Regions from separate parts of the Homo sapiens genome. Here region 1 is linked to region 2. The links come from fine-mapping of genetic effects on gene expression. A gene starts in region 2. The other region holds a variant in brackets. All regions are shown on one strand. Distances are between the middles of the regions.

Evidence for each region. PIP is the estimated chance that this variant, and not a neighbour inherited with it, causes the effect.
Region 1: its variant is the best candidate, but not a certain one, in a credible set for the expression of CFAP91 in tibial nerve (GTEx, PIP 0.68).

Annotation. Positions count from the first base shown.
Region 1 is chr3:119,735,316-119,739,712 of GRCh38, reverse strand. It overlaps CFAP91 (cilia and flagella associated protein 91), which reads right to left. Exons shown (of 18, transcript NM_033364.4): 11 at 2,231-2,347; 12 at 387-458. Among named protein-coding and RNA genes, the nearest start is that of CFAP91, 34 kb to the right of the region's middle. The variant C/T (reference allele first, on the strand shown) is at 2,775.
Region 2 is chr3:119,700,602-119,704,998 of GRCh38, reverse strand. It overlaps CFAP91 (cilia and flagella associated protein 91), which reads right to left and starts at 1,977. Exons shown (of 18, transcript NM_033364.4): 1 at 1,777-1,977. The coding sequence starts at 1,900. It overlaps LOC105374064 (a long non-coding RNA gene), which reads left to right and starts at 1,956. Exons shown (of 3, transcript XR_924391.4): 1 at 1,956-2,503; 2 at 3,578-3,807. RefSeq lists enhancers at 1,659-1,718, 1,769-1,818, 1,812-2,491, 3,158-4,357, 4,077-4,397 and a silencer at 1,929-2,098.

The DNA.
Region 1 (4,397 bases), 35 kb before region 2:
AACTCAAATAATTGTATTATGACTGTGGAAAATTAGGGAATCCACCTGGTTGATAATGCTTAAATAGCCAAAATTCAGGTGAGAAAATGTATGGATTTAACAATTCCAAGGAAGAAGTGAGTTTCATACTGCCTTAGTTACAACCATGGCAAATAGCAGGTAGGTCCTCCCTGTCTCTCTCCTTGACACTGTGCCACCCACCTGGACAAATGATGCCATTAGAAGGAAATGGGTCACCAGAAGGAAATGGGTAGGCAACTCAAGAGTTTAGCTGAATAGGATAGCAGGGTGCAAAAGGGATTCACTCCAAGGAACCAAGCACATATGCATTCTAAAAAATTTATTCTCAAAAGAGAAATGCAGGGCCAGCGGTTGGACCTACACACCATGTTCTGAACGACTCTGCCCCGGAGTAACTTTTGAAGGTAGATCACAGCCATTTCCATTTCTTCTTCTTCCTAAAAGAACAAAGGGAGAACCAAGCAGCTTGAGAACTGCAGTAGTCCAAGCATCAAATATTCTTTTGAAGACTTATTTCAAGCAAAACAGACTGTGCTAGATGCCAAAAAGATTTAAAGAGAAATAAAAGATGGTCCCTGCCCTTATTGAACATATAGTATTTTAATGTTACTTACATTAGAATTCATTATTTTTCATCATTAACAAATCATATTACAAGCAAAAAATTCACTCCCTGCCATGCTATCCCTACAAATGAAACCACTTTCATTTCCCTATATTCCTTTCCAGCAAAATATTTCTTAAAGCAACAAGTATTGCATATAACATCATTTTGCAATAGGATTTTTCATGTTTGATCATCAGTAGACACAAATACAGCTAGTCTATGTCAGAGTAAGGTACTTCTCACAAGAATTTAGCTATGCTGATAAAATCAGAATATAAGAGACAAGGTTAGCCATCTATAAAAATCATCTTAAAAACTCTGTGTCCAAAGCAGAAAAAGCAGGGTCTGGAAATCGAATTAAGATTCCTTTGAATGTAAAAAGAAAACAGCAGTCTAATCGATGACATTAACACACATGAAAGACGATGTGTTGTCAGGCTGGGCACAGTGGCTCATGCCTGTAATCCTAGCACTTTGGGAGGCCAGGGCAGGTGGATCACCTGAGGTCAAGAGTTTGAGACAAGCCTGGCCAACATGGCAACACCCCATCTCTACTAAAACTATAAAAATTAGCTGGGTGTGGTGACACATGCCTGTAGTTCCAGCTACTCATAAGGCTGACGCAGGAGAATCGCTTGAACCCAGGAGGCAGAGGTTGCAGTGAGCCAAGGTTGCACCACTGCACTTCAGCCTGGGTGACAGAACGAGATTCTGTCTCAAAAAAAAAAAAAAAAAAAAAAAAAAAAAAAAAAGACAATATGTCAACCAAAGCCCTGCACAAAGTCTAGAAAAGAGAATGTTATCCAGCAGCACATCCCCGCTGGCTGGTGGGAGCTTTCTGGTCCCTCTGCAGGAGCCACTCATCAGAGGTAGTAACAGGTGTTAGCATGGTCTCCCACCAACACCTGCCCTCAGCCAAGAAACACATCAGCCTTCTGAATACAATCTGGCTTCTTGTGAGGACTGTCCCATACTGAGAGATAATGTGCTGACCAGCCAAGAGGAACAGCCTGATCCAGTAGGCAGTTATAGTTCTCTCTGTAAAGTAATAAATTTGCATCATGGCATCTCTAACAGTTTCCTGTGGATTTGTTTAGTCTGAGTCAGCCCTCTAAATCCTAACCAACTCTGATACTTTGCTCAAATTGAGTCTGGTGAGATGTGGCCCTGGGCAGGGCTCTTTGAGTCATTCCCACCCCAGAAGCAAGTCCGTCTTGATGACACCTCTGGCATTTCATTCCTCTTCGACTCCAACAGTCATCAGCCATCTCTCCATGTGGGAAGATAGCTATGGTAGCTGATCATCACTCAATCTTCTTTTTCTATTTCATATACATGAGCACTACCTTCTGATGCTGATTTTTCATGGAAAGATTTTTTAAATTGTGTTTTTATTTTTGAGAAGGACTGGGTTTAGATTTCATTTCATCTCGTTTGTTTTTCTGTGTCTGATGTTTGATACATAAGAATAAAGACAATATTTAAGTCAGAGCTTGGGAAACTAACACTGCTAAATTAGATTTGCTTTAAGCTAAACTATCCTAAGAATAAGCTGACAATGATATTGAATTTAGCATTTCAACTAAAAAGTTTCCAACTTACATTGGACGTCATTTCCAAGGTTGGAGTTGGAAGCCGAGGTTGAGGTATTGGGTTTCTTTGAAGGAAGCGAGGGGGTTTCTTTACTTCAAGAACTTTATTCTTCTTATCCAACAGTGCCTGAAATAATGCCAATTAATATAATCTCTTTTTTTAACAAAAATTTGCATAAATTTAAGAGGTAAAAGTGCAGTTTTTTACATGAATGTATTACATAATGGTGAAATCTAGGCTTTTAGCATACCCATCACCTGAATAATGTATATTGTACCCTATATTTTCCTTCATTACCAGATCTAGGTCACAGATATAAATATTAATCAGAATATTAATATTCTCTATGGTGATGCTAGGTCAGCTTGAGAAACACTAACAAGAATGTGTGTATCTCTCAAGACGTGCTATGATATTCCTAAAAATATATTAACCGACCAGCCTGATGACCAACATAGAGAAACCCCATCTCTACTAAAAATACAAAATTAGCCGGGCATGGTGGTGCATGCCTGTAATCCCAGCTACTCGGGAGGCTGAGGCAGGAGAATCA[C/T]CTGAACCTGGGAGGCAGAAATTGCAGTGAGCTGAGATTGCACCATTGCACTCCAGCCTGGGCAACAAGAGCAAAACTTCATCTCAAAAAACAAAAAAAAAAGTTAACCACTGACTAGACATGGTTATATTCTTGGTGTATTCATCAAATGATGAGTAGATAAATAAAATGTGGTATATCCACACAATGGAATGTTACACAATCATAAAAAAAGAATGAAGTACTGAGATGTGTTAAAACCTGGATGAACCTTAAAAATACTATGCTAAGTGAAAGAAGCCAGACGCAAAAGGCCATATACTGCATGACTCCATGTATATGAAATGTCCAGAATAGGCAAATCCATAAAAAGAAAGTAGAATAGGCCGGGCGCGGTGGCTCACGCCTGCGATCCCAGCACTTTGGGAGGCCGAGGAGGGTGGATCACGAGGTCAGGAGATCAAGACCATCCTGGCTAACACGGTGAAACCCCGTCTCTACTAAAAATACAAAAAAAAAAATTAGCCAGGCGTGGTGGTGGGCGCCTGTAGTCCCAGCTACTCAGGAGGCTGAGGCAGGAGAATGGCGTCAACCTGGGAGGCAGAGCTTGCAGTGAGCGGAGATCGCACCACTGCCCTCCAGCCTGACAAACAGAGTGAGATTCCAACTCAAAAAAAAAAAAAAAAAAAAACAATAGAAAGAAAGTAGAATAGTGGTTGCCAGGGGCTGAGGGGAAGGGGGAATTGGAAGTGAGCACTATTAGGCATGGGGTTTGTTTTGGGGATGACAAAAATATTCTGGAATTAGATAGTGGTGATGGTTGCACAGATTTGTAAATATGCTAAAAACTACTGAATTATATATTTTTAAAGGGTGATTTTATTGTGTGCGAATTACATTCCCCCCGCTCCCCAAAATAAAGGGGCAAACAAAAACTGAAGGAATTCATGGCCAGCAGACATTCCCTGCAAGAAATTATAAAAAAAAAAAAGTTCTTCAGGCAGGAGAAAAATGTTATAGATCAAAAACTTAGATCGATATAAGTATAAGAAGAGCAGAAGAGAAGGAATAAATAAAATATATTGTTGTTCTTATTTTTAATCTAAAAGATAACTGTTAACTAAAGCAATAAAAGTAAAAAAGTATTGGCTGATTATATATAGCACTTGGACGAGTGAAATGAATGACAGGAATATCACAGGGAAGGGAAGAAGGAGTTGGGAATAATCTGCTCTAAGGTGCCTGCTCTACCCATCAAGTGGCACAGTGTGATTTGAAGATGTACTTTTATTATTTTACATGTATAATCATATACTGGTCCACAAAGCAAGCCTCATGAAATTTCAAAGGATAGGTATCACACAGACTATGACCTCTGATCACAATGCAATTGAGTTAGAGGTTAATGAGAAAATGAGTTAAAATTCCTGCATATTTGGAAATTTTAAAACACACTATTAAATACTCACAGATTAAAAAATCATAATGGGTTTTTTGATATTAGAAATTAAGAATGACAAATACTACATATCAAAACTAATGAAATGTACCAAAAGTCAGTATTTTGAAGGAAATGTTTAACCTAAAATACTTATATAAAACAGATGAATGCCTGAAACTGATGAGCTACATGTGCAATTTAAG
Region 2 (4,397 bases):
ACTTAACATAAACCTAGCTGGTATAGCCTACTCCACACCTAGGCTATATAGTATAGCCTATTGCTCCTAGGCTACAAACCCATACAGCATGTTATTGTACTGAATACTGTAGACAGTTGTAACACAATGGTATTTGTATATCTAAACACAGAAAAAGTGATGCATTGGGCTACAATGTTATGACAGCTACAATGTCACGAAGTAATTGGAGTTTTTCAACTTCATTATAATCTTATGGGACCATCCTTATACATGTAGTCCACTGTTGACCGAAATATCATTACTTGGGGCTTGATTATACATAGAAAGAAGGCTAGAGTTGCCAGATAAAATACAGGATGCCCAGTTAAATTTAAATTCAGATACACAATGAATAATTTTTTAGTATAAATGTGTTCCAAAATATTGCACAGGACAAAAATTTATACTAAAATATTATTCATTATCTGAAATTCAAGCTTAACGGTGCCTCTTGTATTTTTATTTGCTAAATGTGGCAACCCTAACAAGGTGAAAGGTCATAAGGTCAAAGAAAGAAAGCAGGAGAGCACAGCATCTTAGTTCTGATTTTCCCCATCCAGGTTCTCATCCGCCCTGGCTATACTTCGCTTCCTGTCCATGACTAGCGGCGAGATTGTTTTATAACAATCCAAACTTTTATTTGATCTACTCTGAGTGAATTTCTGTTCTTAGCAAGGGACATGGAAACATTTAGCAATTCCTCTGCAAAAGAGACACTTCGGCATCAAAGAAACAACCAGCTTAATAAATACTTTGGGGAGATGTTTGTCCTCCTTCTCAAATTACCCGTGAAAAAAAAACATGGTGATGTGTTTACAGGAGCTAACTTGATTTATTTCACAAAACCAAGAGTAAATACAGAAAAACACTGGCCAGAATATGTCAGCAATCATTACACAGCCTCTATCTAGGAATGTGTACCCTAGATTCCCACACAAAGGAGACTGGGATTCCCAGAGGCAACACCACATTGCTGAAAGCAATGCAAGGTTCAGGTGAAAAACCTGGGATTGCAGAGGGCAAAATTGGAAAAAATCATGCTTATAGCTGGTTACAGTTCTTGCCACGGCAAATTCAATAAACATTTATTTATTGAAGCGCCTAGTATATGTATCAGCACTAGAATAGGTGCTCAGAAGGCTACAAAAATGTGTAGAACAGGAACTTAAGGAACTCAAGGAGCGTGGAGAGAGAGAAAACATAAAATGGACAACCAAGCCGTTAAAATAAACTGGGGTTTTATTGGCCCAAGAGGAGCCAGCGGACCCAGTCTATAAGCAATGCTTTGACGCAGAAGTTAAAAAAAACAAACAACAACAACAACAAAAAACCTAAAAACAAGCATGGGATAAACTGGCACTTCTTTTCGCCCAACTTGGATTTGCCCAGAGAGTTGGAGAGAAAAGATCATTTTTGTAGGGCATTTTATGCAGGAACGTTGAGTGAATCTCCGAGTGTACAAATCGTTGCACACTTTCTGGGTACCAAAACGCCCGGAACAGGTTTCAGGAAAATCGCCCCCCGAAGCGGAGCGCACCCGCGCCTTTCGATGTACCCGAACCCCCGACCCCAACCTGAGTGCGGCCACCTGGAGGGCTCGGAGCTGCCCCCACCCGACCAAGGACAACCGTGGGCAAGAGGTCAGTCCAGAGGGTCGTGTTTCGTTCGCCATGCCCCTGGCCAGGTCCCACCATCTGGGAGCCCACCTGGCCTAGGAGGCGACGGACGCGGAGGAAGGTCTGCGGCGGTCCTTACCGTACAGAAAATCATACGCTCGATTGGAGGAGATGTGGCTCCCAGCCCGCGACCTCTCCCGGTACCGAGTTTGAGACACCTGCGGCTGGGCCTGGGGCTCCTCGATGGTTACTGCGTGGCTCATGGTGCCGCCTCTTTCCTCCCGCCAGCAAGGGACCAGCGGGTCAGGCCTGGCTACTGCGTGCACGTCGCTATGGTAACGGCCGCCGGCGCGCAGGGATAGGGGGCGGGGCAAGGAGGAGGGAGGAGGCCGCGGGGCGGGGCCGAAGAGGAGTGGAGAGAAGTGAAAGCAGGAGTGGCCAGGCCAGGGTCAGGAGGAGAGTGGAGGGGAAGATGAGAAGAGAGGGGAGGGGCAGGATGGGGGAGGAAAAGGCTGGCTTCCCTCTATACTCCAGAGCCAGCGGGGAGGCTGGGAGAAAGCTACTCTTAAGTCATTGATTTGCCAGTTACACCTCGTAGCCTCTCGGAAATCCCTGGGAGATCTCAGAACCTTCTAGAATAATTGGGTGCCTCCCCGCCCCTCCCCCCAGCCCTTTTCCAGGGGGCTTGTCCCGAGAGCTGCGGAATCCAGTCAGGTTCCTAAATGTTGCTCCTTAGCACGCTGTGAACTTTGCCCCACACTCATTAGCATCAGTGTTTAGGATGGGTTAGGACATCAGTAACTGTTGATCTGAGACTGCTGACCCTTTCTGAGTCCTGGGCATTAAATAACAGAAGATGATGTGGGGTAGGCACTGGCTCTGCTTTTGAAAACTATTTATAATGGAAAATTTTAAACATAAGCAAAAGTGATTCTACTTTTAATAACAAACCCTCAAGTAACCCATCCCTCAGAATCAACATTTAGCAACATTTTGCCAATCAAGTTTCAGTTTCCTTCCCCTCTTTTTTAAAGAAATCCTAGACATAATATTATTTTACCCTTAAATTAGTCTGCATCTCAAACTGACATAGATTTTAAAAATTTAACTACCGTTATCATATCTAACAAAATTAACAATAATTCCTTAGTACTATAAATAATTCCAATTTTCCTGTTTGAGTCCAAATTATCTTTTATAGTTGGTTTGTTCCAGTCAAGATCCAAAAAAAGTCCTCATGTTGCATTTTGGTATGTCTCTTAAGTCTTTTATCCTAGAGCAGTGAATTTCTAATCCTTTCAATAATTCTCTATTATTACCAGAGGTTCTTCTATAAAAGGAATCTTTTCATACCAACTCATTGGTTATCCTGAGATAACCAGGATAATCTCATAGAGGAAAGACTGGGTAAATGCTGGATTTGTTCTTTTTAATTATGAAATTTCAGAGACATGAGTTGGTGCCCTACCAAACTCCAGAGTTAACCACAAAGTTTTTGTTTGTTTGATATCATTATGAATGCATGCATTTTTTACAGATCTGATGTTTTAATCCGTTATGATCATTATTATTTATTACACTCAGATTATTAAAGCTAATGGCATGCCTTAGAGTTGGCTTCTTTGTCCTTTAATGTTGAGACGAGAAGTCTTCTTCCGATCAAAGGTTTTTCTCGATCGAAGGGTTCATGGTCTCACAGGCTTCAAGGAATGAAGCCGTGGACCACAGTGGCAAGTGTTACAGCTTCACTAGAGAAATGCGTGGACCCAAAGACTGTGCGGTGGCAAGATTTATTAAAGCCAAAGCAAAAGTAAAGGGAAAGCGAAAGTAAAGCTTCCACGTGGTGGAAGGGAACCTGGAAGGGTTGCCATTTCTGGTTTGGGTATCTTATGTTTATATCCCCTTATGACTCCTCCCCTTTTCCTTTTTCTGTCCCATAGGATTAGGTTATTTTCTATCCACTTGTGGGTTTGTAGCCGGACGAGCCACAGACAAGAACCGCTCAGACACCGAGTTATGGAAGGAAAGGGCTTTATTCAGCTGGGAGCATTGGCGGACTCACATCTTCGAAAACCGAGCTCCCGGAGTGAGCAATTCCTGTCCCTTTTAAGGGCATACAACTCTAAGAGGGTCTGCGTGAGTGGGTCGTGATCGATTGAGCAAGTAGTGGGTATGTGACTGGGAGCTGCATGCACTGGTAATCGGAACAGAACAGAATAGGACAGGGATTTTCACAATGCTTTTCCATACAATGTCTGGAATCTATAGATAACATATCGGTTAGGTCAGGGGTCAATCTGTAACTACCAGGCCCAGAGCACAGTGCTGGGCTGTCTGCCTGTGGATTTCATTTCTGCCTTTTTGTTTTAAATTCTTCTTTCTTTGGAGGCAGAAATTGGGCATAACACAATATGAGGGGTGGTCTCCTCTCTTAGGTTGGTGGGCCTGATTGGTTAAAAACATCAGGCTGCAGCTAGAGCTTAAACTCTCTATATGATTGGCTGAAGTTTCAATCCCTTAATTTGCAGCTGGGACTCACTTTGGCTTAGGGGAAAGTCCCCTTTGATTGGTTGAAGTTTCAATCCCTTAGCTTGCAGCTATGACTCATTTTGGCTTAGGGGAAAGTCCCCTTAGGGAAGTCCCTATTGAACCAGGAAGTCCAGCCAACTTAGCCACTTAGTCCCTCAATGTGATCCACAGACACTTCCTGAATACGCTTCCTGGCCTACTACTCTTTCTGCATATACTCCTGGTTTTAAC